Linked DNA regions of Homo sapiens. The protein of the gene in region 1 purifies or fractionates together with the protein of each later gene. This does not show direct contact. Each region holds a gene or a part of one and is shown in the gene's direction. Other genes may lie near its edges. The genes, in order: RABGAP1L, EIPR1, GRIPAP1, RPRD1A, CLOCK and STRN.

Region 1 (5,573 bases):
AGTTAGTAAGTCTCAGTACTATTGGGGCATATGGTGAATATACAAACCAACCTAAAAAAGTGTGACTGTAAATAGATGAAGTTTGTTTGTTTCTTTTAAAGAGACAAGGTCTCGCTCTGGCGCCCAGGCTGGAGTGCAGTGGCTCAGTCCTAGCTCACTGCAGCCACGAAGTTCTGGTCTCAAGAGATCCTCCCACCTCAGCCTCCTGAGTAGCTGGGACCACAGGCACATGCCACCAAACCTGGCTAATTTTTTGTTTTATTTTTGTAGAGTCAAGGGTCTCACCATGTTGCTCAGGCTAGTCTCCAACTCCTGGCCTCAGGCAGTCCTTGCGCCTCAGCCTCTCGAAGTGCTGGGATTACAGGCCTGAGCCAACGGTGCTTGTCCCATTTTTTTTTTTTTTCACCTGAGTTATTTGATGGGAATTTCTATATATTACAGTTGCGATGTTCTGAGAATTTTTGTTTCTTTGATAATTGTTTCATGATTTAGATGTTTTCTTTTTACGCTGGTAGTTATGATTTTTTTTTCCTTTGAATGAAAGAATTTTATTAGGCATGTGAAACAGGAGTTTTCATGTGATCAGCTCTCCAGTTCTAAATTTGTGACTTTTAAAAAACTTGAATTTTTTTCTTTGCCTTAACCCAAACTTGAATTTGCTCAGCCATTGTATATTTATTTGAACTCTCAGATGATACAGCATTGAAGCAGAAAGTCCTTTTATCCATGCTTTTGGAGTAATCAAAAGAAGGAATTCTGTTGTGCCAAGTAAAAATATGTGTGGGAGATAGCTAGGCTTCAAGAGATTGACTTTGAAGAGAGTAGTGGCTAAGTAGCAAAAATTTCCTATATTGAAGGTGTAGAAGTGGGCCTGCATTCCAACCTACCATTGTCTTCAAGTGGGGTATGGATCATTATGACTGGTTAGAGGGGGTTTGGAGAATGAAGTTGTTGCTGTAAGCCTATGGGATTCCCAGGCACAGAGCTTGCTTATGTCTTAATTTTAATGAGTTCTATATTTTTATAACTCTTGACTTATATAAATGGGTCAGCCGTTGAGTCTGAGGATGACCAGCAGCCCAAGGCTATTCCAGGTGCTGGTATTTCTTTTTTTTTTTTTTTCTCTTTCTGTTTTTTTTTTTTTTTTTTTTTTTTTTAATTATACTTTAAGTTTTAGGGTACATGTGCACATTGTGCAGGTTAGTTACATATGTATACATGTGCCATGCTGGGAATTGAACAATGAGATCACATGGACACAGGAAGGGGAATATCACACTCTGGGGACTGTGGTGGGGAGGGGGGAGGGGGGAGGGATAGCATTGGGAGATATACCTAATGCTAGATGATGAGTTAGTGGGTGCAGCGCACCAGGTGCTGGTATTTCAAAGATGGCTCAGGGGTTTCTTGTGGAGATGATCTGATGAGCATTTTGCCATTACAAACAGTGGAGGCGGAGAAAGTACGGACTTGAGCCTGAGTTATGGTAAAACATACTCATTTTTAAAGGAGAGTTTTAATGCTGATATTATAGAGAAAGACATTGTTTGACTCCTAGACTTTCAGAACGGGAAATAATTTTGACTTTATAGTCAGTATTTGAATTGGGTATAAGTATGTGAACATCAGTGGACCCTAATAAGGAAGAGTTAATGAATTAAGAAGAGCTTGCATCTCTGAACATCTTCTTTTTATACTTCGTTTACTTCCCATATTGCTCTTATTCAACAGATGGGATGGCATAATTGGGTATACGAAGTTTATGCGCATGCTAACTCTTTTTTGTTATCTTTTGGTGTTTTTTGGTGTACTTTTTGGGGATTTTCCTGGGAAAGTTCTAGGCATATATTCAGTTGATTTAGAGTTAGATTTGGGCTAAGATTATTAGTATACTTGAAATTCTGAGCCTTCTTATTTTCTAAATAGCTTTTAAAGTAGAAAACATTTGCCAGTGCTGTTGGGCTTAAAAAAAAAAAAAACCCAACAACAACACAATTCTTTATAAATACTCATGAAAAATCTGGTTACAGGCTGTGTTGTGATAGACATAGTACAGCCAAAAATATATTTAAGAAAATTCTCACCCAGTTTAGTAAGCTTAAATAAGAGGAAAATAAGACAGTTTTTTTTTTTAATAAAAGGCTGATTTTCCCAGAATATGAAGCCTAACAACTGTTTGCTGTGTTATTTTCCCTGTTGCCTGTTCTAAATTCAGCAAGAACTATGCATCCCTAGTCCATGGTAAAAGCTTAGTTCCAGTAGGTGATTCTTAGTAATGGAAGTCTCATTGAGGGATGCAAGGGAATTTGATTGGGAAACATCAGGCATGGAACATTTACTTTTTACTGCTCTAATTTTCTGTGTATCTGGGTATTCAGTGGGGTGGGAACATGAGCACAAATACTAGAATTATCTGGATTTTTTTTTTATACTATGGATTTCCTCCTCTTACCCCCTACCTGCCCCCCAACCCATTGCTAAGTGAGCCATTGATAGTAGGAGTGTGTTATATCCTTCAGGTATGTAGGGCTGAACAAATGCTAAAAACCTTGGCACTTGGCTGATATTCCATAAACCAAATTCCTGCTCTGTGTAATTTGCCTTCTGGTGATATCAGTTTGTTACTCCCATTTTTGAAGAAAAATATGAATTGTGGTGAAGAGACATCTGTAACCAAGAGTAAGATTTATCAAATTATGTAGTATACATGAAGGACACCAGGAGATTGTTTACCTGAACATTTATTAAACTCATTTGACTGTGACCCACAATAAAAAATACATTTTACTACTTGATTCCGCAAGCGCACACACACACAAAGTTGAAAGTTTGGTGAAATAATATTTATCTTTTCAGGGCCCTACTGAGTTAGCTATAATGGCTTGCAAGACCAGTTGTGCATATTTCTTCCTATCTAGCTCTTTGTCCAGTGACATCATGTTGGTAGCTCAAAATTGGTCATGGTGGGAATATTTACACCAGGAAATTCAGCAAATGGTATTCTTAGGGCTTCCCTCCTCATAGGTAGTTGTTAAACATTTATAGCACCCCACTGCTTATAACACACATTGATATATTCTGTTATTTCATTTCATTTTAAAAATGCTGGGTTTTGACTTCCAAATTAATTTTACACCCAGCTAATGGATTATAGCCTACATTTAACAACAAATACAACTAGTTTAGCCTACCCTCTTAACTTTGTAAGTGAAGGAACATACTAAGAGCCTCAAGGCCAAGGTCAGATAGTGAGTTATTAGCAAAGCCAGGGCTCTGGACTCAATCTGGAGTTGTTTCTGGTGGGCTTCTTTCCTAACCTCACTTAGTGTGTATAAGGGATTGTGTTAATCAGTTTGAATAAAGATGGACCTTGACCCTGAGGACTTTATGCTTAGGTGGGGGATTAAATATGGAAACAACAGTGATAATGAAAGGCAGAAAGTAATGGGTGGTAAAAAGATAAAGATAAGGAACTATAAGAGTTTAGAGAGGAGGGAGAGATTACTTTTATTTTTGTTTGTTTGTTTGTTTTTCGTTTTTGACCCAGGCTGGAGTACAGTGGTACAATCTCGGCTCACTGCAACCTCTGCCTCCCAGGTTCAAGTGATTCTCCTGCGTCAGCCTCCCTGAGTAGCTGGGATTACAGGCGCCAACTGCCACACCAGGCTAATTTTTGTATTTTTAGTACAGACGGGGTTTCGCCATGTTGGCCCGGCTGGTTTTGAACTTCTGACCTCAGGTGATCCATCCGCCTCAGCCTCCCAAAGTGCTGGGATTACAGGCGTGAGCCACCGTGCCCGGTCTACTTTTAGTTTTAAGGATAAAAGAAGAGGTGACATTTGAACTACTTTTTTTTTTTTTTTTAATTTGGAGACAGCATCTCACTCCCGTTACTCAAACTGAGTGCTGTGGTGCCATCACAGCTCACTGCATCCTTGATTTCCTGGCCTCTAACAGTTCTTCTGCCTCAGCCCCCAAGTGGCTGGGACTATATAGGCACACACCAACATGCTTGGCTAATTTTTCATTACTTGTAGAGACGGGGTCTCATTATGTTGCCCAGGCTGTTCTTGAACTTCTGGACTGAAACTGTCCTCCTGCCTCGGCCTCCCAAAGTGCTGGGATTACAGTTGTGAGCCACCACGCCCGGCCCCTGAACTATGCTTTGAAGAATGGGTAGGATTTGGACATGTGGAAATAGGACAACTAGTATGAGAGAAAGGCCTTTCTGGGCCAGGGGCCAGGGTGATCAAAGGCATACAAGCATAGACAGGGAAAAATGAGTAGTGAAAGAGCTAGGCAAGAAAGAGTCCGTTAGCACCAGATGGTTAAGAGCCTAGAATGCCAGTTTTCCTTTCTGCTTTTCAGTTTATCTTTCATTTTTGACTCTGGAGTAATCTAGTACTTCTTAACATTGAACAGGATTTATATGTTATGATTAAAATATGATCCAGAGAGCACATAAGTATCCTTAGAGTAGAAGCTGAAGGGAAAAATTATTAGTGTTAGAGAAGCAACCTTGAGTTTACCAATCCTAAAAGTGTTGGAAAGTGAAAAATATTTTATTTGTAAGGAGAGACAGTGTTTTTTTTTTGTTTGTTTTTTGTTTTTCTTCATTAGCGTCAAATTGGCTGTAGTAGAACAGGAAGCAGTTTTGAAAGTCTTTACAAGGGCCTTCTAAAATGTGATTTCTAAATGACTGGATCTTAATTTTTGGAGGCAGGTTTAGTTCAGGCAGAAGGGTAGTTTATACAGATCTGCAGCTAAGCTGAGTAGCTTTTAGAATTTAGGGCAGCAAAGCAGGGTATTTTATACAAAATCCACTTGTAAGGAATTGATGGCTTCTTTATTCCAAGAATTTTCTTAGATTTCAGCATTTATGTCTTTGACAGCCTGTATGACTGAAGATGTTTTGAAGTCTTGGATGGAACTTGCCTTGTTTCACAGGGGAATTGGGTAGCTAGAAATGAAGGTATAAATGCCAGTAAGTTGTGTCTGTTAATCAAGTTGAAGTACTGGTGGCAGTTCTCAAGCTTTTCTGTCTGCTGATGATTTCACACTTACTGCTTCTAATTAAATAGTGTGTAGTCGATTTGAAGAAGCCTTGCTTCTCTTTGACCCACCAGTTCTGTAAAGGTAAAAGCCTTCTTAGAGTGTTGCCCAGGTAACAACACATACAGAGACTGCTTAATAGCTCATCATGGAAGTGTGTGGAAAATTTTGGAAATGTTGGTAAAGAAGTTGCTATAGTAAATAACTACTTGGTTGGTAAAAAGCTGGGCTACTTCTGGATAGTTGATAAAGAGTTTTTGAGATGAGCCGTGGTTCTAAAATAAATATGAATTGTGTCATTGCCACACGATTTTCTTCAGTTATGTAAGCTCCTAATATGTAAATGTTGTCCTACCATTTTAGAAGGTGTCAGCAGTTTCATGTGACCTGTTCCACAATATAGCACACCCCAAACACCACGATAAGAGTTCAAATATGGCATGGCCCAGATGCCTCACACCAGTTAAATGATAAAGCTAATCATGTCAGCACAGTGTTTCTGTTAAAGTTTTTTCCCCCTC
Region 2 (5,573 bases), on another chromosome or scaffold:
AACATGGAGAAACCCCGTCTCTACTAAAAATACAAAAATTAGCTGGGCATGGTGGCGGCACCAGTAATCCCAGCTACTCAGGAGGCTGAGGCAGGAGAATCGCTTGAACCCGGGAGGCGGAGGTTGCAGTGAGCCGAGATGGTCACTCCAGCCTGGGTGACAGAGCGAGACTCGGTCTCAAAACAAACAAACAAACAAACAAACAAAAACAGCATTGGTTCATAGTGTTTTGCAAAGGAATGGGGGTGAGGTTGTCTTCTTGTGTCATGTGAACTCGCACGTGGCTAACATAGTTGATGCTTCTACCCACTGCAGTTCCCTTTTTTCATCTGTCCTGCCCGGAGGAAGCCTCCTCTGGCCCCTGCCTTTGACACTTCCCTAGCAGTGCTTGGAGCTTCCTTATTTGCCGTACACAGGAAAGTCTTTATCCAGTTCTTCTGGGGCATGGCAAGCTGAAGATGATTGGGACATTCATTACAATAAGGAAGCAGCCTGCCTATCCATCAGTGCTAATGAGCCGGATGAACGGATAAAGAAACATGGTACAAATGGAGCATTGCTCAGCCCTAAGAAGGAAGGAAATCCTGCCATCCGCAGCAGCAGGATGAACCTAGAGGTCTTGAGTGGAATAAACCCAGCACAGAGAGTCAGACACCACGCAATCTCACTTACATGCAGAATCTAAAAATACTGAAGTCACAGAAGCAGAGCAGGTGATAACAGAGGCTGGCGGGAGGGCGGATGGGGAAAAGGGAGATGTTGGTGAAAGGATACAAAGTTTCAGTTAAGGGGAGAAATGAGTTCCAGAGATCTATTGGATGTCTTGCTGACCACAGTTAGTAACAATGTATCATGGTAACTGAAGTTATTAGCAATGTATCATATACTTGAAAATTGTTAAGAGAGTAGATTTCAAGTGTCTTCACAACAAAAAATGATAAGTATGTAAGGTAATGCAAATATGAATTGGCTTGACTTAGCCATTCCACAATGTATACACATATCAGAACATTACTATAAATATATGCATTTTTTAATTAGAAAGTTAATGGTGCTGCAGCATCATTTGTTGGGGACACAGAGCCATCTGGAAATACTGGGTTCCAGGCCTCTGTGTGCTATTACTGGGGCAAGGAAACTGACAGAGGAGCTGGGTCCGGCACCGTGCCGCGTCCTGGGGAAGGCGCTGGCCGCACCGTGCCGCGTCCTGGGGAGGGCGCTGGCCGCACCGTGCCACCTCCTGGGGAGGGCGCTGGCCGCACTGTGCTGCATGCTTTTGCTGCATGAACCCGGCTCACCTAGGTGGTGCGATGTGATGTGGATAGGAGATCCTGGGCCCACTCCTGCTTGTTGTATAGTGCAGTTCTGTGGCTTCTCTGATTATGTGCTATTTGTAGTGGTGGGGCCGTTGAGGGGTGGTCTCTGGTCAGGGCATCAGGGCTTTGTTTTTGCAGCCAAGAAAGGCAAACTCATACTTGGACTAAGTGTCGGATGAACTTCTTCCTGTTCTCAGGATGGAAGGGGCTCCAGGCATCACCTTGCCACATGCAATACTGTGGGTGGGTCTCCAATTTCTCAGTCTTTTTACTTCCAGGCTTCTAACCAGTCACCAGGCAGTTGGCCATGCCCTTGAGTATGGGCCACTTTTTGCACGCCACAGGGATGGCCAGAGCAGTGCTGGGAGCCCTGCCTCATGATCACCGTTCTTCACAATCAGCTTTCCCTCCATGCTCTCCCAGCCGTCTCCTGAGCGTAGCCGTCTGACAGCGCCTGCCAATGTTTGGCTTATGCCCTCTCCCGAACTCATTGATCTGTAAAGCAGCTCAGATCTCTTCTCCTTCTTCAGCTAAAAGTACAGGACTCCCACATGGCCACAGGCATGAGTGCAGGGAGGGTCCGGGGCAGAGAAGTCTTGTATGGTTTGGGCACCTACCATGCAGTTTTCTGGTGCCCTCTGGTCCTGCCTGACTCTGTCCTGTGTGCACCGTCTCTACTTTGTAGTCAATCACTGCTGGCCCTGCCCGACCCTGTGCCGTGGTGGGTATGACTGAGCTCTTCTCATGAGTGACACGTGGCACTTGGTGCCCCATGGCCAGGAGCTCCATTATCAGGACCCAGAGGCATGGTCAGAGCTGTTTATCAAAAGACATGGTTCTGTGCTGCAGATGGCATGGCTTGCTCCAGAACCCCGGGACCACGTGGTGACTCCAACCGGGCTCTCCACAAAGTCCACACTGCATGCTTTCTACCACTGACAACTTCCACACCAGCAGGTCTACTAGGCGTCCCCAGAAGCAGGGCTGCCTCTCCCCAGCCTGATCTTGCTGTAGTGCCCTCTTGGCCTAAGCTGGCAGCCTTACGTGCTACCCCAGCATCTGGGCTGGTCCAGCCTTCCTAGGTGTATAATGTGTCACCTCTAGAATGAAGAGGGCTGGCAGGCATTACAGCGTCTTTTCTGCTTTTGCTCTGGAGGGGAAGTCCTGGTGTCCTCAGCAGAAGTAGCAGGTCCTGGAATTGCCATAGCTTGTGTTTCCTGCCGTCTTGCCAAGGTCTTCTGCACGCTCCTCCTACGTTGTCACTGTAATGTCATGAATGCAGTGGGTCCATGTGATGTTCTGTGGGCTGCCCAGGTCTGTTTGGACTATATTATGATAGAAAATGGGAGACCAGCACAGCTCTGTGGCAAGAGTGTATACTGTTTTCCTTTGCTTGTGAATGCGGATGGTTTCTCATCTTCTTTCTTCATTGGGATAGGACAGCGTGCATTTGACGGTCTGTGTACACACATCATGTGCCTGAGGGCCTGGGAATCTGCTCTAACAAGACTCCACAGCTGGCACTGTGGATCTGAGTGGGCTCCTGCTTTGTTGAGCTTAGAGTCATCCACAGGCATTCTCCAGGGCCCATTAGCTTTCTGCAGAAGCCAATGGTGAATTCAGCAAAGCCACACCCACTTCATATCCTTGATTCTTAAAGTAAGCGCAGGTCTCTACCACTCTTTGATGGGTTGGGACGGGGAGGCAGTTTCAGAGGCTTCTATGTGACCTTCCCATTAACTCCACAGGTCACAGGCCCGGTATGGGTATTTCACAAACTGCCCAGGATGTCAATCCCATTTGACCTTAACAGACCTTGGAGTTGCCCACCAGGTGCGCCCACAGACTCAGAGGATCTGCGGTAAGCCAGGCCCTGCCTAGGACTTTACTTATCACCTGGCATCCCCATGCCCCACTCGGGCCGGAGGACAGTGGGACACTGGGTTGCTGGACCCCTGTGCGTGTCTTTGTGTTCAGCAGACCTGGAAATGTGTGGGGATTACCCTTTGCCCAGGGAATGGCATTCAGGAAAATGGCCGTGGGTCCCTTTGGGTACAGACTAGGGTAATCATTGCAGTGTACACCTGCCCTAGGGTTGCAGGTTCCTAACCCGTGGGGAATCTGACCATCTTTACCGTCAGTGGGTTCCAGCTCTGAAGCTGCCTCAAATCTGGATCTGGGTAAGGGATTGTGACTGTGAGTGGGGTGACTTCCCTCAGCCTTCTGCTCATTCATTCTTGTTTTCTTTTTAATATGTATGTACGTTATGTACGTTTGCACTCATGTGTGCATGTGTCAGGCAGGCAGTACTCTCCTTGAATGCCTTGTCTGTTTCACCCCTAGGAATACCAACTCTATTAACTGTCTCCACAGCCCTCTGCCAGTTGAGCTTCCTTGGCCGGCACTCTGGTCTCGTTGGTCATTATGATAATTGCCACCCCCTGACTTCTGGCAGTTACATACCGTCACCCGACCACATTTACTTGGGGCTGGGTTTAACTGCCCAAGTCAGAAAGCTGGACAAAGCTTATTATCAACAAGCCAAGCTTTGTGACAGCTTCTTCTAAGAGTGGAATTATTGGGTCATCTGGTAAGTGAATGTTCAACTGCAAAAGTGTTTTCCAAAATGTGTGTACTGTTTTACACTCTTTTTTCACAATCCGTGAGAGATCCAGTTACTGTACATCTTTGCCAATACTTGCTATTGTTGGTCTTTTTTAAATGAAAATTTCACCACTCTAGTAAGATGTGTGGTGAGTCTCACATGGTTTCACTTTGCCTCCTTCCAATTATTAATAATGTTGAGCATCTTTTCTGGTGCTTGTTGACCATTCATATGTTTTCTTTTGTGAAGTGTCTGATTTGGCGTAAGGTACATTTAAAAAAATTGGGTTGTTTCATTATTAAGCTGTGGGAGGTCTTTATATTTATTCTGGATACAGGCCTTTTGTCAGATATATGTATTATAAATATCTCCCCCAGTCTGTCTTTTCTTTTCTTTTGTTTTCTTTCTTTCCTTTCTTTCCTTCCCTCCTTCCCTCCCTCCCTCCCTCCCTCCCTCCCTCCCTTCCTTCCTTCATTTTTTGAGATGGAGTCTCGCTGTGTTGCCCAGGTTGTAGTGCAGTGGCACAATCTTAGCTCACTGCAACCTCCACCCCCCAGATTCAAGCAATTCTCTTGCCTCAGCCTCCCAAGTAGCTGGGATTATAGGCGCCCACCACCATGCCCAGCTAATTTTTATATGTTTAGTAGAGACGGGGTTTCACCATGTTGGCCAGGCTGCTCTCAAACTCCTGACCTCATGATCCGCCTGCCTTGGCCTCCCAAAGTGCTGGGATTACAGGCGTGAGCCACCATGCCCGGCCACTGCTTCATTTCTTTAATAGTGTCTTTCTGAAAGCAGAGTTTTTCATTTTGATTTTAAAGAAGTTTTAAATTTTAATGAAGTCCAATTAATAGGGTCTTTTGGTGAATAGAAGTTCTTAATTTTAATAGATTCTATGTTATTCGTCTTTTTCTGTATGATCCAGCTTTTTTTCCTGCCATTTAAGGAATCTTTGCTTGTCCCAAGGCTGAGAAGATATTCTACTATGTATTCTTGAAAAGATTTGTATTATTTTATCTTTACGTCTTTATCATCAGTCTAGCTGGAATTGGTTTTTGAGTATGTTATGAGGTAGGATACAAGTTTATTTTCTTTCATATGGATATACAATTGATCCAGCATCATTTATTGAAAAGACCATCCTTTCTCCACTCTTGAGTGTTATTTTTGTAGTAAAACAAGTGACCATCTTTCTAAGGGTCTGTTTCTTTCCAGCTTCCAAAACTTCATTGCTCTTCTATCCTTGTGGGTTTATGTTTTTAAAAGAAAATAGAAAGAAAAACCCCTCTTTGTTACAACATTAGAAGGGTTTCAGAATGGAGTAAAAGTTGAAGTGAGTGTAGATTCTCTTATCTATATTTTCTTGGAGGTTCCTCCATTGCCTTCTCTACTCTGTGAAGTTGATGGACTGTGGGGAGAGAGGTGAATAGCGCTACATGAACCGGATACGTGGAAACTTCATTGTCCAGCTGGTCACTTAAACATTGTATCTGGTGTAGACTTTGAAGGGAGGTAGCTTACCTGAGAGTGGAAAATCTTACTTCACCTGTACCACTTTTGCTTTATTGAGGGCAACGTGGATATAGTTAAGGAGTTTGGTGAGCTGGCGTTTACAGGAAAGTCACTTTCTTTACACCTGAACAGAATTCTCC
Region 3 (5,573 bases), on another chromosome or scaffold:
AGGAGGGGGCTGCAGGAGCAGGGGTTGCCCAAGCTGGGCCCCTCGTGGATGGGGAGCTGCTGAGGCTACAGGCTGAAAACACAGCCTTGCAGAAGAACGTGGCAGGTGCATAGAGGCCCTCCTGGGGATGCGGAGACATTGGGGCTTGAGTAGGGCAAGGAAGGCCGTCATCCTCTCAGGGGAAGGAGAAGGGCTTCAGAAATAGGGTTGGCCCATGCCCTGTGTGGCTTTGGACAAGCCATTTCACCTCTCTGAGCCAAAGCCTTATCATCTACACAGTGCATGTAGTGATGTCTGTCACCCAGAAGATTGTAGTAGAGATAAAAGGTGATATCATTCTGCATTAGTTCAGTGTCTGGTACCTAGCAGATGTTACAGATTAGCAGCTTGAATGTCAAAAAGGAGATATTTGCGGCCGGGCGCGGTGGCTCACGCCTGTAATCCCAGCACTTTGGGAGGCTGAGGCGGGCGGATTGCGAGGTCAGCAGATCAAGACCATCCTGGCTAACATGGTGAAACCCCGTCTCTACTAGAAATACAGAAAATTGGCCGGGCACGGTGGCGGGCGCCTGTAGTCCCAGCTACTCTGGAGGCTGAGGCAGGAGAATGGTGTGAACCTGGGAGGTGGAGCTTGCAGTGAGCCGAGATCACACCACTGCACTCCAGCCTGGGCGACAGAGCGAGACTCCATCTCAAAAAAAAAAAGGAGATATTTGCTAAGTGAAAAAGTGAATGGAGTGTTGGGAAGATTCTGAGCCCAGATTGTAAGTGGGGTCTGGGATGAAAGCTGAAAGAAAGCTTGATAGAGTGTGGGAGCATGTGGTGTGTGGAACTTTGGAGAGCAGCTGGGACTTCTGTGGTGATGGATGCTGGTTCCATGACCAGGAGGGAGACTTAGTAGAATGTGAGTAGGAATTAGGAGGCTCTAGGAGGGATTCAGCTGTAAGTCAGTGGTAGCATATGGTGGGCATGGCCTTCAAGGGCTATGGGTGGGGCTTCAAGGATTGAGAATGGGATTTGTGAAACCAGCTTGGGCTAATTTAATAGTAAACAGAATCTTAGTGGTTGATAGGGCTTAAAATATTTGTGAGAGCCTGGGCACAGTGGCTCATACCTTGATTCCAGCACTCTGGGAGGCTGAGGCAGAAGGATCTCTTGAGGCTAGGAGTTTAAGACCAGCCTAGGCAACATAGCAGGAACTTGTGTGTACTAAAAATAAAATAATTAGGCCAGGCACGGTGTTTCACACCTGTAATCCTAGCACTTTGGGAGGCCAAGGTGGGCAGATCGCCTGAGGTCAGGAGTTCAAGACCAGCCTGGCCAACATGGCAAAACCCCATTTCTATTAAAAATACAATAATTAGCCAGGTTTGATGGCAAATGCCTGTAATTCCAGCTACTTGGGAGGCTGAGGCAGGAGAATCACTTGAACCTGGGAGGCAGAGGTTGCAGTGAGCCGAGATCACACCACTGTACTCCAGCCTGGGTGACAGAGAAAGACTCAGTCTCAAGAAAATAAACAAATAAATAAATAATAAAATAAAATTAACTGGGCATGGTGTGCACTTGTAGTCCCAGCTACTTGGGAGGATCGCTTGAGCCCAGGAGTTTGAGGTTGCAGTGAGCTATGATTGCACCACTGCACACCAGCCTGGGCAACAGAGCAAGACTGTCTAGGGAAAAAGATTTTTTTGAGACGGAGTCTCACTCTGTCACCCAGGCTGGAGTGCAATGGCTCGATCGCGGCTCACTGCAACCTCTGCCTCCTGGGTTCAAGCGATTCTCCTGCCTCAGCCCCACGAGTAGCTGGGATTACAAGCGCGTGCGCCACCACGCCCAGCTAATTTTTGTATTTTTAGTAGAGACGGGGTTTCACCATATTGGTCAGGCTGGTCTTGAACTCCTGACCTCATGATCCACCTGCCTTGGCCTCCCAAAGTGCTGGGATACAGGCGTGAGCCACCGTGCCCAGCCACGGAAAAAGATTTTTGGGGGAGGCTGAGGTGGGAGGATTGCTTGAGCTCAGGAGTTCAAGACCAGTCTGGGCAATGTAGCGAGACCTTGTCTCTACAAAAAAATCAAAAAATTAGCCCGGCATGATGGCACACACCTCTGATCCCAGCTACTTGGGAGAGTGAGGTGGGAGAATCACTTGAGCCCAGGAGGTCAAGGTTGCAGTGAACTGTGATCATTCCAGTGCACTCCAGCCTGGGTGACAGAGCAAGTCCCTGTCTCAAAAAAAAAAAGAAAAAAATGTGAGAGGCATGGATAGAGCTGAACCTTCGTCTTTTAGGCATGTGGTCATTTGGCACAGGGACTCTGCCACCTGAGGGGTTGAAGGCCAGTTCTCCCTCTATTCGAGGCATGGCAAGGGACTTCAGAGACCACCTCATCCATCATATATCCCTGTTCTACTCACCAGCCCTGCAGGAACGCTATGGGAAAGAAGCCGGGAAGTTCTCAGCTGTCAGTGAGGGCCAGGGGGATCCCCCAGGGGGCCTGGCCCCCACCGTCCTGGCCCCCATGCCGTTGGCAGAGGTGGAGCTGAAATGGGAAATGGAGAAAGAGGAGAAGAGATTGCTCTGGGAACAGCTGCAAGGCTTAGAGGTGAATCTGAGTCTGTTGGAGCTGGAATGCCAGAAGGCAGGGCAGATGTTCTACCTCTGTCTATAGTCCCACGGAGATGGCTGTGACATCACCATCTTGTGGGCTGATGGGGTGAGGGAGGCAGGAGGGCAGGGGAAGGCTTCTCCTTGTCCTTGCTAACAACAACCCTCCCATCCCTCATCCTTCCCTGCAGAGCTCAAAGCAGGCCGAAACATCCAGGCTGCAGGAGGAACTTGCTAAGGTGCGGCTGCTTGGCTCTTTCCCATTCTGCTCCCAATCTGCTGGATTCTTTCCCATTCCATTCCCAATCCTAGGGCAGAAGGGGCATTGTACCCCATCAAAGCCTAGGTTTCATCATCTGTGAAATGGAGAGACTCACACCTATGTCTCAGAGTTACTTTCAGTATGGAATGAGTTAATGTGGTCCCACTATATCTTGTGCATGATAAGTTTCATCCCATCCATCTCTCAGCTTTGCCCATTCACTCATTCATTCATTCATGCAAGCATTTACAGACTCCTGGCTCTTATCTTAGGACCTGGAGACCCAGGGGTGCGGCACCCAGTCATGATATCCTGCTTTCCAGGCCTCCCAGCCTAGCCAATCTATAACATGGCCATTGGCCACTATGTTGGGAGCATAAATACCGGGCTTTGGAACCTGAAGGATCTGGGTGGAGATAATATTGTTGTTGCTGACCCGCTGAGCAACCAAATTACTTAACCTTTCCAAGACTCTGTTTCCCCATTTGTAAAACTGGTACTACTCACTTGTCAGGGCTATTTTGAGGATTCCACAAGACAACATAAGTAAATCCTGGCTTCCAAAAATGACTTAATAAGAAGTGTCTATATTTATTAATTTTAGGTTTGTCTTTATATTATTCTCAATGTTATCACTTGTCTGTACCTCTCTCCCCAGCTCTCCGAGAAACTGAAAAAGAAACAAGAAAGGTAAATTTCTTTTTCCCAAGGGTACTGGGGGCCGAGGGGGGAATTAACTTACGGAACTGACCCATCTACATCTGTCCTTCTGTGCCCAGTTTTTGCCGTCTGCAGACAGAAAAGGAGACTCTGTTTAATGACAGCAGGTAACTGCCAGATTTGCGGGTATTGGTGGACAATTGGGACAGTGCCCAGTGAAGATTACAGGGGCAGAGCTAGGAGACTGGGCCTCAAGCCATGTCCAACACACCCCCTCCCCATCACTCCTAGGAACAAGATTGAGGAATTACAACAACGGAAGGAAGCTGATCACAAAGCCCAGTTGGCTCGAACCCAGAAGCTGCAGCAGGAACTTGAGGCTGCCAATCAGGTGATGGGGACTGGGTTCTGAGATCCCTGGGGTAGGGGCCAGGACTGGGAGCCTGGAGAGGTCTGAGGTCCATGGAGGCTGGCTGGGGAGTCTGAGATTTCCTGTGTTGGAAATGGGTTCTGGGGCCCCCCAGGAGCTAGGAAAATGGGAATTGGAGAGCCCTAGGAATTGTTATAGGAGTCTTCATGAGTGTAAGATCTCAGGGGGCTAAGGACTTAGGGGGCTGTGTGCTATAAGTTTGTGTAAATCTGAAACTCCTGGAGGTTTGAGACCACAGTCTGGATGAATCTGTGGTCACTAGGGCCTAGGACCAGGAACTGGGGTAAGTCTGAACTCCCTGGGTGCTGGGTGACTTTGAAATCTTTAGGGGCTGGGATGTCAGTAAATTTGGGACTCCCAAGGGCTGAGGACATGGCTGGGTAGATATACAACTTTCAAGGGTGAGATAGTTGGGGCTGAAGGCTGAGTGCATTTGAGATCCTCAGGATCTGGGCGCTGGCTTGGGCCTAAGACACCTAGGAAGTGGGATCATATGGGCTAGGTAGTCCTGAGATCCTTGAGGGCTGTGAACAAAAAGCTGGTCAGTCTGAGACCTCCAGGGGCTGGAGCAGAAGTTTAGGTGGGTCTGAGGCTCCTGAGGACTGGGGGCTGGATGGTTCTGAAGCCTCTGGGTTTCCTTCTAGAAAAGGTGAGTCTGAGGTCCCTTGGAATGGAGGATATGGTGGCTTGTGGTTCTGAAGTCCCTAGAAACTGGGAACATGGGGTCTGAGACGGGAGTCTGGGTAAAGCTGAGACCCCCAGGAACTGGTGGTTAACTGGGTCTGAAGATTCCAAGAGACTGGGGAGCAGAGTGACAGGTGAAGGGGTCAGTCTGAGAGTTCACCAGGACCTGGAAACTAGGAGGTTGTGAGTTTGAGACCTCTAGGATCTGGGACTATGAGTTTGGGTGGATCTCACCTGGGAAGTAGGGACGTGGGAGATGAGTGTGTCTGAAACCCCTGGTGGTTGGGATTGGGAGGCTGGGTGAAACTGTCATCCTTGGGTGCTGACTACATCTGAGATCCATGGGGCTGACTGTGTCTGAGAATCCTGGAGCTCCCAAGCTAGAATCTGGGTGAGCATGAGACTTCTTATGGATGGGAGCTGAGTGAGTTTGAACCGCGTAGCAGCTAGGGCCAGGAGTCTAGTCGTGCCTGAGATCTTGTACGCTGGGATAGAGGGGTTGACTGTGTCTGAGGCCCCTGAGGGTAGTGACCTGGCGTCTGGGTGAACCTGAGATTGCTGTTGGCTGGATAGTCTGAGACCCACAGGTGCTGAGAACATGCTGCTGGGTGGTCAAACAGAGAGTCTGTACGGTTATATGCACCCCAGGAGAGGCTGAGGTGTAAAATGGGCTCCCCTGGTCTCCACAGAGCTTGGCAGAGCTGAGAGATCAGCGGCAGGGGGAGCGCCTGGAACATGCAGCAGCTTTGCGGGCCCTACAAGATCAGGTATATTGTACTGCGTGGGCTCAGGGAGCTGGGGTTCAGGATGGGGGCAGCCTGAGTGGGTACTACATAGTCAGGCAAGGTCCCAGGGATCCTGCTTCCCCCAGGCCTTCGTGTGTGTGTGTGTGTGTGTGTGTGTGTGTGTGTGTGTGTGTGTGTGTGTG
Region 4 (4,691 bases), on another chromosome or scaffold:
AAGAGATGGAGACAGGTTAGGTGGATAGTCCTGTAGTGTTATTTTTGTATATTGTTGAGAAAGAAACACTAACAAAAGGAACAACGAGTAATTTATAAAATTGTTTAAAATGTTGGTTTGTTTACTATTTTATTGGTAAATTAACATGACTTAATTTGAACAAAGTGATGATTTGTGTGTATTAATAAGCTCACAAATAGTGATTATTTTCAAAAGATCTTTTTGTAAATTTTTTTTTTGATCCAAGGCCTTGTGAGAAATCTCTTGTTTGTATTTCTTCAGGTATTTTCAATTGTTTTTCTTTATTTTCTTCAGCATTTAATCACTGTATACTATGTAATTCCTGAAGGGGAAGAACTAATTAGGAGTTGATTGAGACTTTATTATGGTATAGTTAGGACTTGATTGTAGAAGGGACTAAATGTTCCAACATAATCTTTACCCTTCTCCCCAAACAAAATATCAATTCTGTGTCTCTACATGCCTTTGATTCCTTAGAGGTCGGTAATTTAACATAAAACAGGGATGTCACTTTGAGGGGCAGATGAAAGTCTAGAGAACTGTTCCTTAATAGCATTGTAAAAGTTCCATTCCAACTGCCAGTGTAGATTTTAAAAGTGTTAAATAGTGACTCCCTTGATTAAACTGTTTGTAATTATTTGAGTAGATTAATAATGAAAATACTTTGGAAATAATATACATTTTGACATTCTACCAAGAGGACAACTTTGGTTCTGGAACTGGTTTCTATTTGTCAAATCAGTTTCCTTTTAACATAATTAATCCCTTTAACAAAAAGCCGTCTATGGGATTAAAAGACACGTGAAATGATACTTTTATTATTCCCTTGCTCATATAACTTTAAAAATAATACTTTTAGCTCTAATAGCTCAAGAACACAATATTCGTTAATGTTCAGTAAAGTAGCCTGAGACATTTTCAATGTTTCCTTAAGGTTTTTGAATGACTGTATATTTGGCAGTTAAGCAGTGCCACACTACAGGGTAGATATGGTAAATTTTATATTTGTATATTTACAGTTACAAAACAAATGTACTTTTACCTTTTATTTCTGACCCTGTGTGTTAGAGCAGTTGCATGCTCTCCTGCTGTTAAAAACACATTGTTAAGCTGTGGATTTGTACTCAATAATGACTTAGGATAAACATTTATTTTCATTCATTGCTTTACATACTAGACATTTTTCTTCTCTTTGTAAGTAGATTCAAATTAGATAGTCAATAAAACATCTTGAAAATCCCACAAGCCAATTATGTCTCTCTAGTCTGAATGGCTTCATTGTTTCTTTCTCAGTATTAGAAATTATAGTTACAATGAATTGCATATGAAGAAGGCAGACATTTATTTTTAATAGCCAAGTAGTTCTGCAAATAGTTCTTTTAACAATTTGACCTCTCTCCAAAACAGAGACACATATAAGTAGTGCTCATCCATGCACTACTAATAATACATGGCTTATTCCAAAGTTTTTAGTCAACTTTTGGGACTTGGGGTGCATTTTCTCACAGAAAGAATAGTAGTTAGGTTCCCTAACACTACCGCTGATAGCTCACCTGGGAACTGAATCCACCTAACCATGAATGTCCTTCACTTGTAACGTGGTTCACAGGTTACTAATCATAGATCCTGACCAGCATTTGTAACACTGCTCTAACTAGGACACAGCATGCAGCAGCCACACTCACACCCTGGGATGTCTGTGTACCTCTGTCCCTAGGTGTAGGAAATGGAAGAAAAAGATTCAGCCAAGTGGGGAGGTGACAGATGCACAATTATGAAACCTGGTTGTACATGTTATGAAAGTATACTAAGTAAGTTAGTTTTTATTATTAATGTGAAAGCAAAAACTTGTATGTTAACTTATTTTCAATATCTTGACCTTATTTATGATCTGCTAAAGTGGTGATTTATCCATTCAAAATATATATTTTTTTCCATTTAAAACTAATTTATAAACTATGTACTCCTGGGAAGATTTGAAATCTTTTAGAAGTTTGTTGAAATATTTTCACCATTTCAGACAGACTTCTGACTTAGATACTGATTTTAATGCCAGTATCTGCTCTAAATATTTATGATAAAAATGCATTATTTTTTTAAAGAGCTTGATGAGATTTGTGATAAGTGATAGTACTCAAAAACCTGAATCCCACCCCTCGACCAATCCTCCACAAACTTCAGTTGTTGGTTAACGTATTAACTGAACACAGACAATACAGTCTGATTTAGAAGTCATCTTTTCAGCCGTGTGATAATTAACATGGTAAGCCTTAGCAGCAAACATTCTTCCTAAAAGGAAGACTTCATTTTCTCAAGAAATGGGATTAGTTGGGGGTATTATAATACCAAATTGTAAATCATGAGCGTTTTCTCCACTGTGCACCTGAGGCAGATCATGCATCTTTGAGTGCAGTTTGGTCTGACCCCTCAAGAGAAAAGCATGGTGCCGTAGGGCTGCTATGGTTTGAATGGATGCCATCACTCTTTTCTCCACATACAGTGCAGAGAGCTGTCTGGAGTCACAATCTGAACAGATTCTCGGGCGCTCCTTCTCTCCTTCCATCACTACAGTAAGTAAAAGGACCATAGAGGGGAACCAGGAATCTGAGAATCAGCTGTGCTCAATAGCCAACCTCCCTGTCCAGATGCAGCTATTTTGGTATCTCCTATCACATGCACTCTGAATCAGGGTTTTTCTATAAGAAATCTTTCAGAATCAGCAAAAGTGGGGATGACCCAGGCATCTTGATTTGCAAAATCACAAAACTAAGTTGTCAGTTATCACTGTAGATGAGCAACTCATCTTTTTAAAGTATAGTTACTGAACTGATTCTGAGAAATCTTTAGAGAGAAAAAACTCAACAGTACAAATTAACTAATTGGGAAAGTTAGAATGTCCTTTCTGAATTTTTCATTAAAAAAATTACATTATCTGAAATAACATAAAGCTACTAAACTGCTTTGTATTCTATTAAGAAATAGCTCCTAAGGATGTAGTCTTGTTTCATAGTTGTTGCACTATATCAAAACTTAAAATGTAAGCCCAGTTCTTCTCTGTATAGAAAGGAAACATTGTGTTACTTAATGAATTATTTATACAGAGCATTTGTTGCCAACTGTTGTTCCAGCCATCCACACAGGAGTCTGTTCTGAGGTGGCAATAGCACATGGGAAGATGAACTTTCCCTGTTTGTTTACCCGTTCTTCTTTGGCTGTATCTGATGACAGTATAAGATGTTCTTAATAAAGTTTTATGTTCTTTTTGAAATGTGTAGGTTGTTTTGTGAATCTGATTCATTGGATATGGGGTGGGAAGGGGAAAGATTAATGGACTGGGAGGGAAGCAAAGTACTGGAAATAATTCTGATGTTATGGTAGAGAGACTGCTGAAGGAGGAGATTTACTTGGCCAGTAGTTCCCAAACTTGAGCGAGCATCAGAATTACCTAGAGCCAGTTTGTCCAACCTGTGAGCTGCACGTGACCCAGGACGGCTTTGAGTGTGGTGCAACACAAATTTGTAAACTAAAACATTATGAGATTTTTTTTTTAGCTCATTAGCTATCATTAGTGTATTTTATGTGCAGCCCAAGACAATTCTTCTTCAGGGTGGCCCAGGGAAGTCAGAAGATTGGACATCCCTGACCTAGAGGATTTATAAACTACAGATAGTTGGGCCCCACTCCCAGAGCTTCTGATTCAGTAGGTCTGGGGTAAGGCCTGATGGTTTACAGTTCAAACAACTTGATGCTGATGCCACTGGGGTTAGGGACCACATTCTGACAACCACTGCTCTAAACAAATTCCAGGTAATAAGATAATAAAGTATGGTTTTTATAATTATATAGCAAGTTCCTTATGGGAAAAGAACAAGATCACATATTCTTTTGTGGTCCACTGCTTAGTAGTGCTTTATTAAGTGCTTTTGAGTGAACAGATTCAATTGGTACTGTCAACCTCCTGGAGCCCATGCCCTTTTACCACTCCTTGAATTTAAAGCAAAACTGAAGATACTAGAAATCTGTGAGAATCTCCAGGGCAGTGTGTGCCATACTTTTTGGTAAACTCAATTGGAGCATTTACAAAAAGGATACATACCTACTGAGAAAATTTTCTGTGATTCTTACCATCATCTAAAAAGTTGGGGAAATGTAGTCCTCTGGCCACAGCACCCCTGGTTCTCTATTCCTGGGTGGCATCTGGTCACTTTATCTGAATTCAGATACTTCCCATTCCCATCCACTTTTTTGCTTCTGCAATAGGTTTTATACAGTGGAACCCATACCCAGAGATTCTGTTTCAGAAGATTTGGGATAGATGCAGAAATCTGCATTTTAAACAAGCTACTCAGATGATTCTAATGCAGGTAATTCATAGACTGCACTTTGAGAAACATGCCCTACAAAGCAATATATGGTCTATAACAGATGATAATGGTAGCTCACATATATGGTACTTACTGTGCACCAGGAACTGTTCCAAGCACCTCGCTTATCCTTTGTGGTAAATACTCTAATTATTCCACTTTTATATCTGGGCAATGAAAATAATGTAAGGTCTGTGTGACTCTGAACGAGTCAGATGGTGAAGATGAGATTCAAACCTGGCTCCAAGTTTGACTCCAAGCTGGTGCTCCTTAACCACTATATGATGCTTCCTCTTACACTGATAT
Region 5 (4,327 bases), on another chromosome or scaffold:
TTTTGTTGGCACAGTTATTCAGGATATTTAAAACAGTGTTGAACAGTTCACAAGAAATTAAGCAAACTTGGATTTTAAAAATTAAAATACTTTCTTTCCATGTGACTGTTTTGCATAGTTTTTTCCCCCTATGTCATAACACTACATTCCTTGTTTTTCTTAAATAAAATACTCTGCAGGTTTTGTTGTGAGTGTTTATAACAGTATTTTGTAAGCTGCCTGGGTTTCCTCAGGGAAACATTATTTAGTGGAATAGGATATAGTTTATGGAGAGACAACTAAGTGAAATTCCATCACCACCACCAGCAAACACTGAGGTGCTGCATTAAGTGACAATCAAACTAGTAAGTATTTATGAAAGAATTTAGAAAGGGGTTCAAAGAAGCAATTGCTTTTAAAGCAGTTCTCTGGGGTTCTTGAATAAAAATGGCTAAATGTATTTATTTATATTTTAAAATACCTGTGTGTTCTGTTTTCTCATCAAAGTGATTTCGGTGTCATGTATTTAATGTGTGGTTTGTTTTGTTTTGCACCATATTCTTCTTAGGGAACTGGCTCTGATTTGGGGTGCAGTCACCAACTCTCATGATAATCTTTACGGACAGTCTGAATCTACTTTACTTCAGGACGGCAGTGGAGGGGCCAACTCCAGATGCCCCTGCACTTCCCTCCTCAAGTCATCTAAGAAAGAATTTTAGAAATAACTCCTTTCAAATCTGATTCATACAGTTCCAACCTTTTTCTAGTTTCACTTGCTGCCTTCTTTGTTTTATGGGCACTTTTTGTGTGATTACTTCCCCAACACAGTCAAAGGCCAGTATGACAGAACCAATGGCACATGATGCCTCTATTTTGCCCATTTGGGGAAATGTTAGTAAAAGAAATAGCATCTTTTAATGGCTGTCATTATCATATCCATATTAAAATCCATTTAAAGTTCTTAAATTTGGCGGAATAATGTATACAGGCTGTAAACTTCTACAAAAAATGTTTGCTGTCTTTAATATGGTGTCAAGTTACTTGGTCCTTTGAAAACAAAACAAAACTTCCATACACAGCACTGCCCAGTAAAGCAGTGTTGGAATATTGGAAACCTAGACATTTGAGGATCCTTCTTGCTCACAAGCATTGGAACAGAATCCTCCACTTTAGGACTCAGAGAAGCTATGGAGTCCCACAGGCTAGGTATAGCACACAACTTAGAGAACGGTAGTTAAAGCACGTCAACCACAATTGAATTTAATGATCTAAAAAATATTTCTTAACTCTGAGGGTTAAACTGAAGATACGTTTTCAAATAAAAGCTTTTAAATTTCTTAGGAAACAAACTGTGACATCGCTTTTAAAAATGACATTCAAATGTTTATAATGTGTGTTTTTGAGTTGGCTTGGACTAGTGCAAGTTCACTGCTGGCAATGGTTATGCCAGTAGTTAAGTTAAAATAAGTTGTTACCTTCAGATTGATGTCTTGTATAACCAGACAATCATCTTCAAGCAAAAAAATTGGCCAGGAAATGTCTTTTTAAAAAAAAAAAAAAAAAAAAAGATGTGTCAGCCAGAACAGTTACCATTCAGACCATACTGGAATGATTTTGAAATCTTTACTATGGTTTAAGTTGGGGAAGGCCTCAGTATGGCATTTTCATATTCACTCTATGTAAAGATTGAAGCCCAAAGATGAGTTAAATTCAGTGCTGTATTGAAACCAGTCAGTGCAAAAAAAAAAAAAAAGTTTTACCTTTGTAAATTTTTCATTGTTAACATCAGTTGGTAGTTGTTAAAACATGCACCAAATTCTTTATAATGTTCTGTGTGGTTCTCAATGTGATATTCTTGACATTGCTGTCCTTACTGCTTGGTTCTTGGTTTTAAATTAAAAAGTAGATGTAGCTCATCATTTTTACTTCCAAAACGGTGGAGCTAAAAACGGCTAATTGATCTTGAGATAAGAATACCCTTTACTAAGGCAAAGATTTAATTGAAATCCAAAATGATTTATAGAAACGAAAGGCATTTTCCATTTGTTGTCTTCTGCCGAAATTCTGAATTGCATACACACATGAAGGATAATGAATGGTTTCAACGGTGCTATATTAGGTTCTCTGATTTTCATGACCTATGTATGTTTGGAAATACAATATTGTATAAAATGTGGATCGTTTTGTTACCGATTTAATATTGCCATTTTAATTTGGTGTAACAATTGGTTACACTTGTTTTTCAAAGCTATCCTTTGAGGAGAAAGTCAAAATGTGTTGTTAGCCTACCTCCACTCAGGCCTCTTGCTGTGTAATCATTATTCCAGGTTATGATGTGCATAGCTTTTAAAACTGCGTGTACTATTATTCTGCTCTTTCCCATACTCTTGTCATGTATTCAGAACCTAAACTTATAGCAAAAGAGCCAAGCAGTAGCAGTTTTTGTAAATGTAAAAATAATTAGATCCAGACTTTGTTTCCTTCAATTTTAAAAATAAAAAATACCTCAGTGCTATGTTTTTCAGTTATCACCTGCATTTCTCAAAAAATAACACCTGCTTCATGTGGCACATAACTTGTAAGAATCACATTTTGGATTTTAAAGAAAGACTATTAAATATTTTAAGATCACTATCAATGACATTTCCCTTTCTTTTATTCAACAATGGAGCCTATTGCAGTAGCGATTTTTACCTTATAGCTTAGGTCTGACTTACCAAAAATTCTCAGAGGAATTATGTCCTGCTACAAGATTGTGGTGCCTCAGAATGCGATGCTGTTCTTATTCGCATATGAAGCTAGTAATGGGACCAAGCTACCTGAACTGAGGTTACACGATGATGGTGCCAGCTACTCCCTACGAGGAATTGTCTTTTCTGTTGTTATTAGAAAAAACGGTTGGGTGCGGTGGCTCACGCCTGTAATCCTAGCACTTTGGGAGGCTGAGGTGGGTGGATCACCTAAGGTCATGAGTTCAAGACCAGCCTGGCCAACATGGTAAAACCCTGTCTCTACTGAAAATACAAAAAAATTAGCCAGGCGTGGTGGCGGGCACCTATAATCCCTGCAACTTGGGAGGCTGAGGCAGGAGAACTGCTTGAACTCAGGAGGCAGAGGTTGCAGTGAGCCGAGATTGCGCCACTGCATTCCAGCCCAGGTGACAGAGTGAGATAGATTGTCTCCAAACAAACAAAACGTATTAGTAGGCCAAGCATGGTGGCTCACGCCTGTAATCCCAGCGCTTTGGGAGGCTGAGGTGGGCGGATCATAAGGTCAGGAGTTCGAGACCAGCCTGGCCAGCATGGCGAAACTCCATCATCTCTACTAAAAATACAAAAAATTAGCCAGGCGTGGTAGTGCACGCCTGTAATCCCAGCTACTCGGGAGGCTGAGGCAGGAGAACTGCTTGAACCCGGGCGGTGGAGGTTGCAGTGAGCCAAGATCACACCACTGCACTCCAGCCTGGGCGACAGAGTGAGACTCTCTCAAAAAAAAAAAAAAAAATACTAGTGAGAATTCCTCACTCTTTCTTTATAACAAACAAACAATCTAAGGCAATATAGACTGTCTAACCACAGAGTTTATCTTAATCCACAGACATTGTTTTCTACCCTTTGATACTTCCTATAGCAGAAAACTACAAATATGACCTTTTTTACCAACATGTGCTACTTCTAACTTGGCATTTAAGCTGAAAACTCCTCTTAAGATCTCCACAGTAGTAGCTATCATCTTCCTCACAGAGTTACCATGTAGGACAATTGCTGCATCCTACAGTGCTGGATGATTAACTGGGTTCTTTCACAATCTCTTCAAATTGCAGACTACATTGTGGACCTTTGTAGTAGCTCATAAACCTGAATTGCTCTGGGTCTCCTATTATACCTCACACAAATAACATGGATGTTTCTGTAGAATTGTCCTTCAATTTAGTGAGGCTATTAATGGGAATGTTACTGCATATGATTCTAGAATATAAAAGGCTGAGAGAAAGCAGCTGTTATGCTACTTGGGTGAAGTAGTAGTCAAATCAAAATATACTCAAACGAGGGTGACGACTGAAGTTGCCATGAAAAAATGAGGTAGTCTTAGCATAATGAATGACATTAGGCTCTGGAATTAAACCGCCTGGTGTGACTCTACCATGTAACCTTGGGTGAGTTAGTTTTTTTCTTTTTTAACCTTATATTAGTACCTACTACCTCACAGAACTGTAAGGGTGACAATGCTTTCGAACAATGCCTGGCTCCTGTTTAGCTACTTTAGGCATATCTCAAATATTTAATATGTTAGTGTTTTTACATCAGCTTTAGAAATTGGCCTATCAATACTGATAATTTTATATGAC
Region 6 (5,573 bases), on another chromosome or scaffold:
TAGTCTCCAACAAATTTGAATACTTACAGATTGATCTTTATTAGCAGCGCATTCTATAAAAGGTGTGGATTTCAGGATTCAAGGAAATGTTAAAGGCAAAGTTTAACTTTAATGTTGTGCAGTTGTGGGGAATGATTTTTGTATTAGTTACTTAAAATTTAATTTCTTTTCCAGTTTTGGGAATATAGATAACTCACACTAATTTGGTTAAAAAAAAAAAAACAAAAACAAAACACACACACACACCAGAAAACAATGCTTACCTTTCTACCTGTAGAAGTTGGGGAATTCCAACCCATCCTTCCCCCCGCCCCGCCCCGTTCACTCCCTCTCCTCGTTTAAACTTTTCAATTTACTGGTAACTGTAGTTGATCTTCAGTTTTTATGCACACATCTCCAAACACCCCTTCCTGGGTTGTTTGTGGCAAATGTTTATTAACTTCAGGTAGCTTTCCCATGGGTGCTTATCATATTAAAGAGACTCCTTTTTTTTTTTCCTTTTATTGGAGAGAGGGTCTCGCTCTGTTGCCCAGGCCGGTGTGCAGTGGTGCAGTCTTAGCTCACTGCAACCTCCGCCTCCCAGGTTTAAGCAATCCTTCTGCCTCAGCCTCCCAAGTTTAAGCAATCCTTCTGCCTCAGCCTCCCAAGTAGCTGGGATTACAGTCATGCACCACCATGCCTGGCTTATTTTTGTATTTTTGGTAGAGACGGGGTTTCACAATGTTGGCCAGGTTGGTCTTGAACTACTGACCTCAGTGATCTGCCTGCCTCAGCCTCCCAAAGTGCTGGTATTACAGGCGTGAGCCACTGTGCCCGGCCAAGGACACTACTTTTTTGACAGCATTTTCTGTTTTGTGTTCCAATTAAAGTTTCCACAGAGAAACTTTAAAAATGTGTCATTTTCCTAACAGGATGAATATGATATATTTTGGGGGGAAGAGTTTGCAGTAATCTCTGGTCTTTGTCCCCCCTTATTAGTGTAATTGGAAAAAAAATTATTACCATCGTTACATTTGAATCTTCTTTATTTTTCTTTTGCTACTGGAATTTTCTTAGAAACACAATAGGAAGTAAAATAGTTGAATGCGTTGTGATGAAATACGGCTCAGTTGGTGTCCTCCTTTTAATTTTTAAATCTCTTCCTAAGCCATTAACACCAGAGTCAACACAAATACCTTTAAGATGAAGTCAAATTTGCCTCTTCAAGAACCTGTCAGTCCTGCTCTTTCAGGTTGCCAGGGAAGACTTGTGAAAGGCAATCCAAGCTCTCATCTGCCTGGCCTGCCTTTACTGCTTCCTCCCTCCTTCAGATCTTGGGAGTAAGGAAAGGGCCACGTTATAGCAAAAACCTATTTATTTGTCACTTATTTCACTCTTGCTCATCTTATTTGATAAATTCTCTTTTTATTTTTGGTAATGCTCCCCTCCTCACATCCAGTTGAGATTAGGCAGTAGTTCATGGGGGGAAAAAAAGAATGATTAAGATTATTAGTGAGCTTTACATTTGTGAAAGGAATTGGAGAAGGAATACTAATAATATTTGAGAAAAATTTCTGTATGTGAGGCATTGTGCTAGATGACCTCAAAGAAACATGCAGTCTAGTTATTAGTACGATATAACTTGTAGAAGAATCAGAGTGTTTATCATTTGGGGAGAAGGCTAATTTCTTTAGAATAGTGAAGGAGAGGCCGGGCGCGGTGGCTCACACCTGTAATCCCCAGCACTTTGGGAGGCCAAGGCAGGCGGATCGTGAGGTCAAGATATCGAGACCGTCCTGGCCAACATGGTGAAACCTTGTCTCTGCTAAAAATACAAAAATTAGCTGAGCATGGTGGTGTGTGCTGGAGGCTGAGGCAGGAGAATCGCTTGAACCTGGGAGGCGGAGGTTGCAGTGAGCTGAGATCGTGCCACTGCACTCCAGCCTGGCGACAGAATGAGACTCCATCTTAAGAAAAAAAAAAAGAATAGTGAAGGAGAGAAGAGCCAGCAGTGAATGGGGAGAATAGCAGGAGTAAAGAACTTTATGAGTTCATGAGAACCTAAGGCTCAGTATTTGAAAATTACTGACTTATGAGAAAGCAGGCATGTAAATAAAAAATAAAAAATGTTGGCCCTAGATTTTGATATGTGTGTGGTGTGTGGTGTAGGAGAGGCCCTGATATTTACCTGTAAGTGTTAGAGTTGTATGAAAAAGGTGGCAAGATTGAGTAGCTTAGGGCATGTGGTGTGGAGGCTGTATGCTAGAGTTTTGGCATTAATAACTTGTATTTTCTGGGTTTTGGCATTAATAATTTGTATTTTCACTCCCCAAATATTTTTCAAGCATCTACTTCATGCCAGACCTTGTTCTAGATACCGGAGATACAACAGCAAAAATACAGATCTTGCCCTTATGAAGCTTAAATTGTTGAGGCAGGCAGACAGTGATAAATAAATACATAGAATGTTGGGAAAGAAAATAAGAGGATTTGAGAGGGTGGAATGGGGAAGAAAGGATTCACTGATAAGATGCCATTCGAGCTAAGACCTGAAAAGGTGATCTCTAAGGTGAGGAAAGAGCTTTCTACACAGAAGGAACAGCTGGGGGAAGGGAGCACGCTTGGAATATTTAAGGAATATCAAGGAGGGAAAAGTGGCTAGAGTAGAGGAAGAGAATGGAAGAAGTCATGTCAAACAGGTACTAATGGAAGAAGTCATGTCAGACAGGGTCTTGCCCATTGTAAGGACTTTGGCCTTATACCTCAGCAAGCTGAGCAGCCGTCGGAATGTTTTAAGCAAAAGAGTGACACCATCTTTAAAAGGGACCCCTTGTAAGGATTCAGAACAGACTTGGAGGGAAAACAAGTAGAAGCAGCAGGGGGACTAGTTAGGAGGCTACTTTAATAAATCCAGGCAGAAGATGAACTAAGGTGGTAGTGATAAGATATGTGAATATGTATTTGATACGTATTCAAAATACAGGATTCTGAATACATTTTTAAAGGTAGAGCCAACAAGATGTGCTAAAGGATAGAATGTGGGGTTTGAGAAAAAGGGGAGTCAAAGATGACTTAACAGTTTTTAGAGGGCCAGGTGCAGTGGCTCAAAACCTGTAATCCTGTAATCCCAGTACTTTTGGGATTGAGGCTGAGGCAGGAGGATCACTTGAGTCTAGGAGTTCAAGACTAGCCTGGGCAACATGGCAAAACCCCATCTCCAGAAAAAAAAATTTTTTTAATTAGCCGGGTTAGTCCCAGCTACTTGGGAGGCTGAGGTGGGAGGATTGCTTGGGCCTGGGAGGTTGAAGCTGCAGTGAGTCATGATCACTCCACTGCACTCCAGCCTGGGCGACAGAAGGAGACCCTGTCTCAGAAAAAAAAAAAAAAAAAAAAAAAAAAAGTGCAGCCTGGGCAACATGGTGAAGCCCCATCTCTACAAAAAATTCACAAAGTTAGCTGGGTGCGTTGGCATGCGTCTGTGGTCCCAGCTACTCGTGAGGCTGAGATGGGAGGATTGCTTGAGCCCTGGAGATCAAGGCTGCACTGCGTTATGATCATGCCCCTGCACTCTAGCCTGGGTGCCAGAGTGAGGCCCTGTCTCAGAACAAATCAATCAAACAAACAAACAAACAAAAATACATGGATATAGAGAGAATGAGCAGCCTCATAGGACAGCTGAGAAGATTTACTGAGCTTTTTAATGGAAAACATAAATACTTAAAATGAGTTTGTCTTTATTATTGTGACTATTATTTATAATTATCACAAAAGGCAATATGGCAGAGACCTGGGTTTAAAATTCTTGCTTTAAAACTTACTATTGTATTTTACGCCTAAAATACATATTTGCCGTAATTCTGATCTCTCAGAGCCTTAGTTTTCTCATGTGTAAGTTAAGGATAATAAATTACCTTGTGAGAATTAAATTAAGATAATTTAAAGTACTTAGCAGAGGCATGGTACATAAGATAAAGTAAGTGCTTAATAAATGGTTGCAGATGCATGATGCTAAACTTTTGCTCTCGGTTATCTCCTCATCCCCAGAGAAAAGCATAATCTTCAGTCATGAACTTTTCTGAGGCTGGAGCATACAAGTGCCATCCTGAGGCCATGCAGTGTAATATTCTGGGTCTGACCCAGGCACTAAGAGATATTTAATGGGAGTGAATGGTTGCCTTCAGTGTCAGCCTCAGAACATTGAGGATATACTTCAAGTGTATTTGCTTTCCTTTTAATAACCCAGTAGGTATCTGTTACCTTGAAATTCATATAAACTTTTCTGAATGTGTTTATCTTAACTTTGCATTACATCATGGGTAACAAATTGTGTAAATTTACTAACCACATTATGAAATGAATCCTACATTTTATTTGGCTCTTTAAGCCACTTCCTTTACATGTGGAGCAGGTGAACTCCATTGTCATATGGTATAATTTTGTCAGCAGGTTCATTTTTCATTCTACTCATATTCTTGATAATTTCATAATCTTTATATTTTAGAAAGGTTATAGAGGCTTTAATCTTTTAAAACGTATCCTATTATTTGTCTCTTCAGTTCAGTGTTTCTCAACCTTAGCTATAATCTTAGAATAATCAGAGGGAATGAATACTAATTCCCTGGACTCTACCCCAGATCAATTAAATCAGAATCTTAGGAATGAGGACCCCTAGCATTAGTATTTTTTGAGCTCCCCAGTATACAGCAAGGATTGAGAACCACTGCTTTAGTTGTTTTTTTCTGTTTTTACATTATCTATAAAAGTTTGGTGATTTCAACACTTTTATTAGTATTCCCTATATGGATGGCTTTTTATAGAATTTGGGATATAATTTCTTTTTCCATTGTTCTTTCTGATGATAGCATTTTATTTTTAGGCAGTAGAATATTATAATTTGAATCACCTCCTTCTGACTGAGATGTAATGACAGAGTAATCTTTGAGCTGGAATGAACTTTGGAAATAATCAGCTCAGTTAGGTAAAGTGAGGTTCAGAGGGAGGCTGAATGACCAAGAATGAAATAGGTTTTGTACAAGCTGTCACTTACATCTCCAGATATCTTTACAGTTTTATTTTTTCATATTTTTTGTCTAGGGGCCAGGCTAATCATCTGTATCATTCCAATTTGAGTATATGTACTGCTACAGCCAGCACTCTTTACAGTTTTCTTTAAAGCCCTTTCAGATACACTGTACCATTTAAACTGTACAACCTTCTGAGGTAAGCAGAGCCACACTGATGCTTATTTATTTATTTTTTTTAGATAACAGGCATAAAGATTTTACTGTGTTTTACTGCTTTCTAGCTTATTTTATTGGTTGCATTTAAGATTTTCTCTGTCTTTGGTGTTATGTAGTTTCATTATGATGTGTCACAGTATAGATTTCTTTTTCTTTTTTTGAGATGGAGTCTAGCTGTGTCGCCCAGGCTGGAGTGCAGTGGCACAATCTCGGCTCACTGCAACCTCCGCCTCCTGGGTTCAAGCAATTCTCCTGCCTCAGCCTCCCGAGTAGCTGGGACTACAGACGCCCGCCACCATGCCCTGCTAATTTTTTGTATTTTTGGTAGAGATGGGGTTTCACTGTGTCAGCTAG

The links.
Region 2: the proteins of RABGAP1L (region 1) and EIPR1 purify together in Homo sapiens (affinity purification with mass spectrometry, with the first as the bait; one large-scale study listed by BioGRID). This does not show direct contact.
Region 3: the proteins of RABGAP1L (region 1) and GRIPAP1 purify together in Homo sapiens (affinity purification with mass spectrometry, with the first as the bait; one large-scale study listed by BioGRID). This does not show direct contact.
Region 4: the proteins of RABGAP1L (region 1) and RPRD1A purify together in Homo sapiens (affinity purification with mass spectrometry, with the first as the bait; one large-scale study listed by BioGRID). This does not show direct contact.
Region 5: the proteins of RABGAP1L (region 1) and CLOCK purify together in Homo sapiens (affinity purification with mass spectrometry, with the first as the bait; one large-scale study listed by BioGRID). This does not show direct contact.
Region 6: the proteins of RABGAP1L (region 1) and STRN purify together in Homo sapiens (affinity purification with mass spectrometry, with the first as the bait; one large-scale study listed by BioGRID). This does not show direct contact.

What each region holds. Positions count from the first base shown.
Region 1 is NC_000001.11:174,161,647-174,167,219, forward strand, and holds part of RABGAP1L (rab GTPase-activating protein 1-like), read left to right. Parts: intron 1-5,573. UniProt on the Homo sapiens protein: GTP-hydrolysis activating protein (GAP) for small GTPase RAB22A, converting active RAB22A-GTP to the inactive form RAB22A-GDP. Plays a role in endocytosis and intracellular protein transport.
Region 2 is NC_000002.12:3,259,319-3,264,891, reverse strand, and holds part of EIPR1 (EARP and GARP complex-interacting protein 1), read left to right. Parts: intron 1-5,573. UniProt on the Homo sapiens protein: Acts as a component of endosomal retrieval machinery that is involved in protein transport from early endosomes to either recycling endosomes or the trans-Golgi network.
Region 3 is NC_000023.11:48,987,960-48,993,532, reverse strand, and holds part of GRIPAP1 (GRIP1-associated protein 1), read left to right. Parts: coding exon 1-105; intron 106-2,422; coding exon 2,423-2,607; intron 2,608-2,800; coding exon 2,801-2,848; intron 2,849-3,529; coding exon 3,530-3,561; intron 3,562-3,650; coding exon 3,651-3,698; intron 3,699-3,822; coding exon 3,823-3,922; intron 3,923-5,334; coding exon 5,335-5,412; intron 5,413-5,573. UniProt on the Homo sapiens protein: Regulates the endosomal recycling back to the neuronal plasma membrane, possibly by connecting early and late recycling endosomal domains and promoting segregation of recycling endosomes from early endosomal membranes.
Region 4 is NC_000018.10:35,988,426-35,993,116, reverse strand, and holds the end of RPRD1A (regulation of nuclear pre-mRNA domain-containing protein 1A), read left to right. Parts: 3' UTR 1-3,293; downstream 3,294-4,691. UniProt on the Homo sapiens protein: Interacts with phosphorylated C-terminal heptapeptide repeat domain (CTD) of the largest RNA polymerase II subunit POLR2A, and participates in dephosphorylation of the CTD by RPAP2.
Region 5 is NC_000004.12:55,426,193-55,430,519, reverse strand, and holds the end of CLOCK (circadian locomoter output cycles protein kaput), read left to right. Parts: 3' UTR 1-2,617; downstream 2,618-4,327. UniProt on the Homo sapiens protein: Transcriptional activator which forms a core component of the circadian clock.
Region 6 is NC_000002.12:36,958,922-36,964,494, reverse strand, and holds part of STRN (striatin), read left to right. Parts: intron 1-5,573. UniProt on the Homo sapiens protein: Calmodulin-binding scaffolding protein which is the center of the striatin-interacting phosphatase and kinase (STRIPAK) complexes.